Regions from separate parts of the Homo sapiens genome. Here region 1 is linked to region 2. Evidence: fine-mapped expression QTL. A gene starts in region 2. The other region holds a variant in brackets. All regions are shown on one strand. Distances are between the middles of the regions.

Region 1 (5,384 bases), 78 kb after region 2:
GCTGTTACATAAGCCAATCTTTTCTCATTATTTGAAGTTGTCCTTTATGACATATTCATGTATATGCTTGTATTTTTATAAGCATTCTATTTTATCGTTTTGTGTTGTGTGTCAGTACCATGTCATCTTAATTATCATAGTTTTACTATACATTTTATTATCTGATAGGGAAAATGCCCCTTATTATTCTACATTTACAAAAATTGAATGTGTTTATTTTTCCAGATGAATTTTTCAATAACTTGGCCAAGATATCCCTGCCAAATAAAAATCTCATTAATGTGTTGATTGAATTGTTGTATGTGTAGATTAATGTAGGGGTCATTGGTATCTTTAGCCAAGGTGAGTTCCACCAGGAAGATGCTACATCTTTCTATTTATACAAGTGTTTTTAATGTCCCCAGTACAGTTTTGTAATTTTCTCCATATGATCTACACCGTTCTTAAATTAATTCCTTGTTATTTTATATTTCTTATTGCTGTGATGAGTGAACCCCCCTCCTCAGTATATTTTAAATGTATACCTTCTTAGACAACTAGTTTTATTTACTTACCAACCCCAATCCTGCAAGAAAAAAAAAAACCATATATATATATATATTTCAATTTCTATCATATCCACCAGATGGCAGTCTTGGGCACGTCCATCTGTAAACCTGCTGAGAGCTCTGGTGACAAGAAAGGCAGTGGCTGGCAGACCTTCCAAGCACTCAGAAGCACGCGGACAAAAAGGTTTTTTTGTAAACCCGAACGAAAAATAAACCCAGCATTATATAATTATAGTATTTGTACTGCTGTTAACCTTTAATCTTATAACCCATTAGTGGAGACAGAGAAGGACTGTCACTGTGCCCTTCAAAATCATATTTTTTCCTGTCCATGTGATAAACACCTGTGGCTTCTTGGCAGCACTTTTGGTTTGATTCCAGGGACTCTTATGGTTAAAGGCAGGCTTTAATCTGGCGTTGTTTTCCTTCTCCTAAAAGCACCATTTAAATCGGAAGTTACTGGATTTCTAAACGGTTAAGACCGTCTTCCGACTGGTTTTTATCATTCCCAGATCTCTTCTGAAAGGAGGTGGTGTGCATAGTTAATATGAAAGGAACTGGCTTGTTCTACGCGAATACAAATCTGAATAACTCTTATATATTAGACCTTTTTTTTTTTTTACTTTAGTGACTTCCAGTATCTATATTTAGAAGTGTATAATTACTTGAGATATATATATATATATATACACACACACACACATATATAGTGTGTGTGTGTGTATCTATGTGTATATATATACATATACACATGTATTTTTAGGGCTTTTGGCTTTTTTAGGGCGGGACACGTGAATCTGGCAGTTGAGACAGAATTTTTCCTATAGCGGTGTAACAGTGTACAATACTAAACTAATGAAATGTCTTTCACTATCAACAATTTACGTATCCATGCTGATTGCTTTAACACTAGAAAAAATATGCCAAAATAAACTACATTTTCTAGGCGCTTTCACACCAAAAACACACACACACAGCTGCTTGCCCATTTGAGAACAGCCAATAAAGCAAACTCTTTGAATGATTTGTGGTTTTGTGTCCCCAGAAGTTTTAACAGTAGTTCTGAAGATTTGTCATTTGTGTGTGCTTCAAAGATAGAGTAATACATTTTATAGCTGGGCAGATCTCTAACTATATAGTTATAAAATCTCAAAGCTGAGAAAACCCTGAATGCCAGATGATCTTTCAGCAGCCTCTAGTGTGAGTGTCAGGAATGAGTTCATTTCCATCTTTGATCAGCTCTGCCTGTCGTGTTGCATCTCTGCTTCTTCTCCTCAGTTGTCTTATTAACCCTCGGGGCTATGAAAATAAGTATTTAAAAGCTCCTGGAACCCACAAAAAACACTAAGCCTTGAGAGAGATGTAGTTGATCTGAGTCACATATGCTAACAACTTTTTATTTCCCTGATTATTCTTCCTGTTCTGTACAATGACTAGAGAGAATAAAACTACATCAGGTACAAAAACCACCTGCCTTCTTAATTAATGACCTTTGTTATAGATTAACTTCTCCTTTGTTGTCCTGCTTCACTTAGATCAGATGACAGAAAACCCATGACTACACCCTCTGTAAAAGGTGTTCAGTGTACCTTTCCCAAGAGAAACACTGCCTGTAACCAAATTGCTGTAACTATGTGCCAACCTTGTATGAAAAATGTTGCAATCCTGCCAAAAACTCCTGTCTCTGCCTATGGAAATGAAACCTTGAGCTTCCTTCCTTCAGCACGCTGACTCCATTCCTTTGGAGCTGGTGCTCCTGGGTGGGCTGTCCTCAAACTCTGCGCTTGAATTATCTGTTTAAATTAGATTCTGACCTTTTTGATTATTTTAGGTTGATAGGGCCAAAATTTAACCCCACCTATTAGGAT[G/A]ACTTCCAGCATATTCTCTTTTCTGTCCCCCATTATTTCATTGATTACCATTATATATCCTAACGCCAACTGTATTCACCATCCAGGACCCTTTTCTCCCAATGTGCTCTCATTTTCTTGATCATTCTTAAAGTATGCAACCCAGAACTGAACATTTATGGGTAGCAGAACTGTCTCCTCCTTTATTCTCATTAATACTTTTCTGTTCTTCTATTTAACACCGAAATATTGAACTAGATTTTCTGGCAACTGCATGATACTGTTTGAGTCCTTCGAGCTTATTTTTGGTTGGTGTTTTGGTTAACCTATTTTGCAGGACCTTTATTTGTTCCTATTAAGTTTTCTTGGGTAAAATTTATTAACCTTTTGAGTTGGTTGTGGATTTATCTAAGATATGTTAGCTATCTTCTTCTTTCCAGTAACTCCAAAATTTCATACATAAACCTCCCATACTGAATGAAACAGGTCCAAGTACTGAGGCCCTGTGGGAGGCCTCAGAAACTTCTCTTCAGTAGGATGCAAATTGACCAATCTTTTACTCAACACCCATTAGGTAAGAATTTCAGCAATGTACTGATCCACTTATCTGCTCATATTTCTCCAGTTTATCTACAAGGATATCATAGGATTTTACATTCTTTGCAGAAGTCACTTGCATATAACCCAGCTTAAGCGGAGGCTTCACTTTGACCTATTCCTCTAGGTCCTTGCAAATTTTTGGTGTTGGTTTTTGCTTGTGGTATTGCTTGCATCATTTATGCATTTTAAAAATCCTGAGCTTGTTACAATTCTTCCTGTGTAACTGCTGATTTCTTGGTTTTGTTTTTATTGTTGTTTTATTATTTTTAGGTACCTCTGCCTTTTTATTCTGTATGTATGTTATACTTCAATTAAAATATTTTTAAAAATATCCCTGATGCATTGAAAAAAATCAAAACTACAAGTTGCTCTGCAACCTGAAGGCCAACTGTAGCAGTGTAGGTTGGTTAAGGTAGAACAGTGCCTCATCCACAGACACCAGTCGCATCACAGACACGTGGACTTAGATGTTGCAACCACTCTCCAGCAAGTGGCAGGAAAGTGTTCTAATTCTAATGAAACTAGTATAGTTATATTGCAACAAATACCTGACAGGTGGAAGTAACATGACTTGCAAAAAAAGTGCTTTTTTTGGAAGTGGTTTTTCCAATTTACCAAATCTGCCACATGGGCCAGCAGCAGCCCTGGAGCCTTGAATTCCTCTGGGAGAGGAGACGAGGTAGCTCTGCACCCTACATTCTCCCCTACCTGATATATATCCTCTTTCTTAAATAAAAAAAATAAAAAAAAAAAAAGAACAATGGAAAAAGGCGACACTGTAGGACTGTGGCACAGGAATTAAGCAGCATCTGAGCAATCTTAAAGGACCAGTTTTGGTTTCCTAGGCTGGAGTTCAGCCTTTTTGGAAGGGCCTGTGACACACTCAGTATGTCCTTCTACAACTCTTATTCTCTTGACTTCCTCAGTCACCAGGCTGAAAAAATAGCAAATGAGAAAAAGTAGAAAGGAAGGGAATGCCCCAGATGTAGATAGCATTGTAAATTTCTGCAGATATATGTGTTATTTATAATGTGTATATAGATAGTGTATATTTTTGTGCACATTTCGGTATATATGCTATACTTCAATAAAATTTTAAAGAACCTTGAATAATGCAATAAACCTTCATATATATTTATTTATATGAGGTTTCTGTTGGTGGAAAACATGGAAACAGTTGAATAGATGTGGATATGCTTCGGAGAATATGGATTAAAATATAAATTACATGTATGAAAAAGTCACTTTCAGGGAAGGAGGGCACACCTTCCAAGAGACAGGCAACAGTTTAGTCAGGGTAAGCTAACTTGCTATAACAGAACCAAATCTGTAATGTTCAAACATAACAGAAGTTTATTTCTTGTTCATCTATAGACCAGGCTAGGTGTTCCAGGTCAGAGGCTTCTTCTCTTCCATGTGGTGACTCAGGTTTGAGGCATTTTGCATCTGGTGGCTACTATCACCCAGGGCCTTATTGTTATATATATCCCACCAGCACAAGGGGAAAGAGAGCAAGGGAAGGGTACCCCTGCTTCTTCAAAGCCTCAACCTGAAGGTGGTGCACTTTGTTGCTATTCGCACTTCGTTGATGAGAACATGGCCACACTTAGCTGTAGGTGCAAGGTGTGGGGCTGAGAAACTATTCCTGGTTAGTAGCTGCATCGCAGCTACAACTCAGTTACTATGGAAGACAGGAAGCACAGTGTGAGAGCAACTCCTGTGTCTGCCACAGGCAGCCATTCTCCAGAGCAGGTAAACAGGGTCCACCACTTCGGAGAGATGAGGCATACATATTAAGGCACTGTGGACAGAGAAAACGAATGATTCAAACACAAACTTCAAAAATGAGATACTCCACGCACCCACCAGAATTACTAAGATTAAAAAGACTGATAATACCATATGTTGGCGAAGGTTTGTAACAACCAGAACTGTTGGCATTACTGGTGGAAGCATAATGACATAATCATGTTGGGAAAAGTTTTGGAGTTTCTTTTTTTCTTTTTTTTTAATTACACTTAAGTTCTAGGGTACATGTGCACAACGTGCAGTTTTGTTACATAGGTATACATGTGCCATGTTGGTTTGCTGCACCCATCAACTCATCATTTACATTAGGCATTTCTCCTAATGCTATCCCTCCCTCAGCCCCCCCACCCCCCGACATGCCCCAGTGTGTGATGTTCCCCTCCCTGTGTCCATGTGTTCTTGTTGTTCAGCTCCCACCTATGAGTGAGAACATGCTGTGTTTGGTTTTCTGTCCTTGTGATAGTTTGCTTAGAATGATAGTTTCCAGCTTCATCCATGTCTCTGCAAAGGACATGAACTCATCCTTTTTATGGCTGCAGAGTATTCCATGGTATATATGTGCCACATTTTCCTAATCCAG
Region 2 (5,384 bases):
AGGATCACTTGAGGTCAGGAGTTTGTGACCAGCCTGACCAACATGGTGAAACCCCGTCTCTACTAAAAATACAAAAATTAGCCAGGCGTGGTGGTGGGTGCCTGCAATCCCAGCTACTCGGGAGGCTGAGGCAGGAGAATCACTTGAACCTGGGAGGCGGAGGTTGCACTGAACCGAGATTGCACTACTGCACTCCAGCCTGGGCGTCAGAGTGAGACTCCGTCTCAAAAAAAAAAAAAAAAAAATCATCTGGGGAGCTATTTTAAAATTCACCTTTCTGAGCCTTGTCCCCAGAGTCCCTGATTTGTAGGCATGAGTGGACCTGGGAATCTCTATCCCAGAATCCCAGATGATTCGGATGCTGGTGGTCTATTCACCATGCTGTAAGAAACACCATTCTCACACAAACTTGATGAGTAGGTTTTAAAAATCTGAATTGCAGAGGCGGAGCCGCCACCCTGCCGCGACTTTCAGTCTCCGACCATGGCCTCACGCTGGTGGCGGTGTGCCCGGCTCCCCCGGCCTTGCAGGGCCTCCAGGGCCGCGCGCCGCTGCCGGCGCCCGCGCTCAGGCTCATAGGCGGAAGGGATTCGGCTTGTCTCAGATACCCTATTTTAGTCTTGTGAAGCGCTTAACATCTGCCTGTCCAAATGTATACAGTATATCACGGTTTTATCACACAACCCCGGACAGTAAAACACACAGTGGTGAGAAATATACAGATCACCGATCCTTTCAAATTCGGTTGCAGAGACTTGAAAGGTCTGTATGAGGACATTAGAAAGGAACTGCTCATATCAACAACAGAACTTCAGGAAATGTCTGAGTACTACTTTGATGGAAAAGGAAAAGCCTTTCGACCAATTATTGGGGTGCTAATGGCCCGAGCATGTAATATCCATCATAACAACTCCCGATCCGATGTCCAATTTTCACAAGCTGATTGCTGAGAAGGTTCTAGGCGGCGTCTGTTAAAAAGCATTGCTGTCTGTTAATTTGACATGTGCAAGCCAGCCACCGCGCCATAGCCTTAATTGCAGAAATGATCCACACTGCTAGTCTGGTTCACGATGACGTTATTGACGATACAAGTTCTCGAAGAGGAAAACACACAGTTAATAAGATCTGGGGTGAAAAGAAGATACGGTTTTTTGGTTTTTTAAAATCTCTCTTACCGAATCACATGCTTTTTGGACCGCGTTTGCTTTTTCAGATTTGTCTTATTAAAAAGTAAAATATGCTTGCTCAAAAAACAAAAAAACCCGAATTGCAATTAAGTCTTTGTTTCTGCCGTCCTTATGACGGCCTGGACAATTGTCCTATTACTAAATTTGCCCTTTTCTATAAAACATTGACAGCCCCTAACCTGAATAGCACTCTGTTGGGTCTAAGCTTAAATTGTCTGCCCAAACCATTTTACACCAAAGTAGGAAATAGGTTTAAGTTCTTTTAGGACATTCGGATTAAAAAAAAAATATATATATATATATATATCCTAAGGTAAGTATTAGAATACCTCTATTACACTTTTGTTTCTCGTTTGGAGAATTAACATGGCAGCATCGTCTAATTTGATAGCTGGAGGAGTCATGTCCACTTTCCCCATCGGCCTGTTAAACCCCTATCATTCATTCTTGACTCATCCTGTGTCTTTGTGAAGCCTTTCTTGGTAAACCTATGCACAAGGAAGACCCTTTATGTCGTCACCAGCCCTTGTGCATGTTTCAATTGTAGTACCTATCATCTTGTACTGCGATTGCCTAATTTATTTTTGTATCTCCAGTTCTACATACAGTACCTGGCAAACAGTAGGCGCTCAATAACTGCGAAATGAACAAGTCCATGTCAAGAGACTAGGCTGGGAGTTTTAATATCAATGCCGACTGAGAAACAAAATACGGAAATGTCAAGGGCTGGTATAAAAATAATCTCTAATAGCACAAAATCCTCCTGAAGGGAACACCTGTCCCACTTTCTCACGTTGCTTTCCAGGTTCTTCCGACACCCCAATTTCCCGCCCACTCTTCTCCCTCCGGGGTACAGGTCAGGCAGGTATCCCAGCTCGGCGGCTCTGATAGGTCGGCGATGATTTCATTGTTAGGGAACATCCGGGCCTTTCCCCTCCCCGCAACACCTCCCCAGAGCCCGGCCTTCCCAGTTTCCCACTCTCGCCTGCGCCCCACCCGCGGCTGAAGCAAAACAACCGCCTCTCCCCTGCCCACTTCTTGTCCTCGTCTGAGTCGTCCCTTCCCGTCTCCACGCCGAAGAGAGGCGTTTAGATCCTCCAATGAGGGCCTAGGAGGACTTTCTTAGCCAATCAGTAGCCAAGCCCCTGCAATTCCGGGTGGGACCAGGCGTCCACACCTATAGCTGGACTGCTCGTTGGTCCCTTATGGCGCTTCTTTTACGCGAGGCTTAGAGGTCAAATACAAGGGGGCACGGTCCTCACAGAACGGAAAGGATCCGTACAGACTCTCCGGGTTTGACCGTTTTCTAGGACGAACCAATCGCTTTCCAGATACTTCCCCGCCTTTTGCGCGTTCATTTGAAAAAAGCCGGTGTGACGGACTTGGAAATTGGCTCAGTGACTGACCCGCAAGAAAGCCAGTGACTGGGGGTTCGGATCACGAGTTGGACCAATAAGAAAAGACAATCGCTGGGGCCGGGGCTTTGCTAGGAGGAGCGCAGGTGGGCGTTATTTGATTGACGGAGGGCTCTACTTATGGCTGGTAGCGGGGGCTGGTCCCTGACGTTCGGGAGGTAGGACCTAGCGGAGGCGGGGCCGAATAAAGTAAATGGTAATAAAGGGTTGGGTCTCACTTAGTGGGCGGTGTTTGATGGACAGCTGACCTTGCCTATTGAAAGTAGCCACTGATGCCCAATGGGAAATTAGAAACCCAGAGGCGGGGCCGGGTGGGCGGGGTAAACGAAGTACGGAGGTGCCGAGGGAGCAGCACGGGGAGGGGGAGCGGTGATTGACAAGACTCCCAGCAAACCGGGGGCCGTGAGAGGGCGCGCGGCATCCCAGTGGGTGGCAGCTGGAGGCGGGGCACCCTGAGGGGCGGGGAAGGACTAGGGTGCGGGGAGGGGGTTGCAAAAGGAGCCGAGCGGCTTCTGCTCAATGGCGGAAAAGCCGCCGGTGCTCTGACGGCCTCGTTCCCCTAGCAGTTGCGGGGGAGTTTCCTGCCGGCGCGGCTGGAGTCTCTGATTCTCAGGGTTCGGTGGTTGGAAGATGCTCCAGAGAGACGAGGCTGCGGCGGAGGAGGTGGCGGCGGCCGAATCGGCAACGGCGCTAGGGTGGAGAGAAGGCGGCATCGGCGGCGGCGGCGGCGTGAGGGGCCGGGCGGTGTAAACAGCCCCGGAGGCGGCGGTCGAGACCCCGAGGGGGAAGCGGCGGCTGAGTCAGGGTCGCGCCTCCGTTGGAAACTTGGGCTGAGTACCGCGGCGGGCGCGAGCGAGGCGCCCTAGACATCTTCTCCCTCCCTTGCCTCAGGTAAGGCCGCCCGGCACCCCGCCGGAGGGGAAGCGGCTGACCGGCCGCGCCGCCGAGGCCCCGGGCCCTGGGCAGGTTTTCGCGGTGCTGCCGAGCCGCGGCCGGGGCCTCTGTCCTTCCGAATCCTCGCTGCTTTCCCTGCTGCCGCGGAGCCTAGGCAGGGGAACGCCGGGCCTGGCTCTCGGGTATAGGCCCCTTCCCCGGCCGCCGCCTCCGCTGGGCTGAGGTCTGGGAGAGGCGCAGGGAGAGAATGGGAGTTTGCTGGAACGCCTGGAAGCTGACTGATTCTCTCTTCCCTCCGCTTCAGTCTGCAAGCATCTCTTTCACACGAAAGCACTGGGGCTACCCCAAGCCTTGGCGCTTCTCTTCCTGGTGCATGCCCTGTTTGAAAACACTATCTTTTACCATTCGTTTCCTCATCAGCTTCTGCCCTACTCTGCGCTCCACTTCACTTCCTTGTTAAATCGTCTTTCTCTGCTGTCTATGCGTTCTACCCTCGCCTTCCCTCCTTAGTGGCTTTAAATTGTGTGTTTCTCTTTTCTTCGTACCCCGGCATCTCTTGCCTGTCTTCCCTAGCACCATCCTTTTCGGATGTCATTCCTAACAGTGAAGTTCTTAATTGAAACTGCCACTTATTGTCAGTACCCCAAATCTACCGGAGCCCCATTAAGAGTATAGACTGACTAGCCATATGTGGTAAATCAGTTTTTCATAGTTTAAGCCTAACAACCTTGAAAAAATTGTATTATTAAACGTAAAGTGTGAAAATAACACCGAAAATAATTTTTTAAATGAAGGACTCAGTGAGTGTTGGAAATAGTTATTTCTTCATTTTTTAAACTTGCATGACCTCTCATATCAGATTTAGCAGATCTGGGACGTTTGCCCATCTTATTCGGCAAAAAAAGTGCTTCTTAGGCGTTTGATAGCAGCCCAAATTCATCAATATTCAATTTCTTCTAAGAACAACTTGAAAACTTTTTTAAAAAGAGACGTTAATAACTGGGAAGTTGTTTTGATAGTCACAGTTAAAGAGCTTTTAAAATAGGCTCCACATGTTTAATGTATCAAAATAAAGTTGGCAGGCATGTTGTAAAAGGATTATTTAGGAATTTGAGTAGTCTTAGTGTTATGTAGCTATTTTAGGAAAAACATTCTTTTTCTGTTAACAAACGTTTACAACTACGGTGATGTGAGAATTACTGAGGCTTACTGTGGGATTAACACAGGAACTGTCTTTATTTGAGCTACTGCATGGATGAAGAAGTGGTAAATTGTTCAGAGTAGACAGTGTAAGTCACAGTATGTTCTAGGAGATGGAGAAACATGCCATGGACGCTGAATGTTAATAGATGTTATTTCATTTACTTTCTCTGTTGTGCAATAGCAAAGTTCCTATTGTTGGCCTACTTTTAAATGGGGCATTTCTAAGTAAATAGTGAGACAAGTTATTCTAATTATTATGATAGTCTTTTCCAAGTGTACAGGCCTTTTAAAAATATAGTTGAAGTAATGGTAATTTTTTAAGGAAATGTTTTTGTAGGTCTGCCAAATGGACAGTGTGTTGTTCTAATCGAAATTTTAAAATTAAGTATTTAGAACAGAATATTTTAGTCCACACATTTTCAGGGATAATCTTTATTTTGTGCTTCTTCTCTCAATGCCTTCTTTGTCTTTTTTTTTGTCTTAATGGTTGTTGTGTTTTCGCCTCTTCATTTGTTTTTGCTCTCATGAAGTCTTACAACAGTTTCTGCAGTGGTTCTTTTTGTTGCTGTATATTAGCACGAGTATTTTTATTTGAGCTTTCATACTGTAAGATTTCCCCAGTTTCTAGTACATTATCCTCTGGATTTGTTGAAGTGATTGTTCTCTTTGAAGTGACCAGCAGAGC

Alleles and levels. Alleles are on the strand shown, and positions count from the first base shown. SD is a standard deviation of normalised expression in the study named.
For the expression in fibroblasts of the gene that starts at base 3,094 in region 2, A is the high allele of the variant in region 1 and G is the other (small effect, 0.39 SD a copy in GTEx).

What was found.
Region 1: its variant is fine-mapped to the expression of PPM1B in fibroblasts (GTEx, PIP above 0.99).

Annotation. Positions count from the first base shown.
Region 1 is chr2:44,243,603-44,248,986 of GRCh38, forward strand. It overlaps a transcript of PPM1B not described here. Among named protein-coding and RNA genes, the nearest start is that of SLC3A1, 29 kb to the right of the region's middle. The variant G/A (reference allele first, on the strand shown) is at 2,417.
Region 2 is chr2:44,165,782-44,171,165 of GRCh38, forward strand. PPM1B (protein phosphatase, Mg2+/Mn2+ dependent 1B) reads left to right here and starts at 3,094. Exons shown (of 6, transcript NM_002706.6): 1 at 3,094-3,493. PPM1B-DT (PPM1B divergent transcript) reads right to left here and starts at 3,011. Exons shown (of 2, transcript XR_940034.3): 1 at 1,517-3,011. It also overlaps the pseudogene PDSS1P2. RefSeq lists silencers at 2,795-3,124, 3,445-3,654.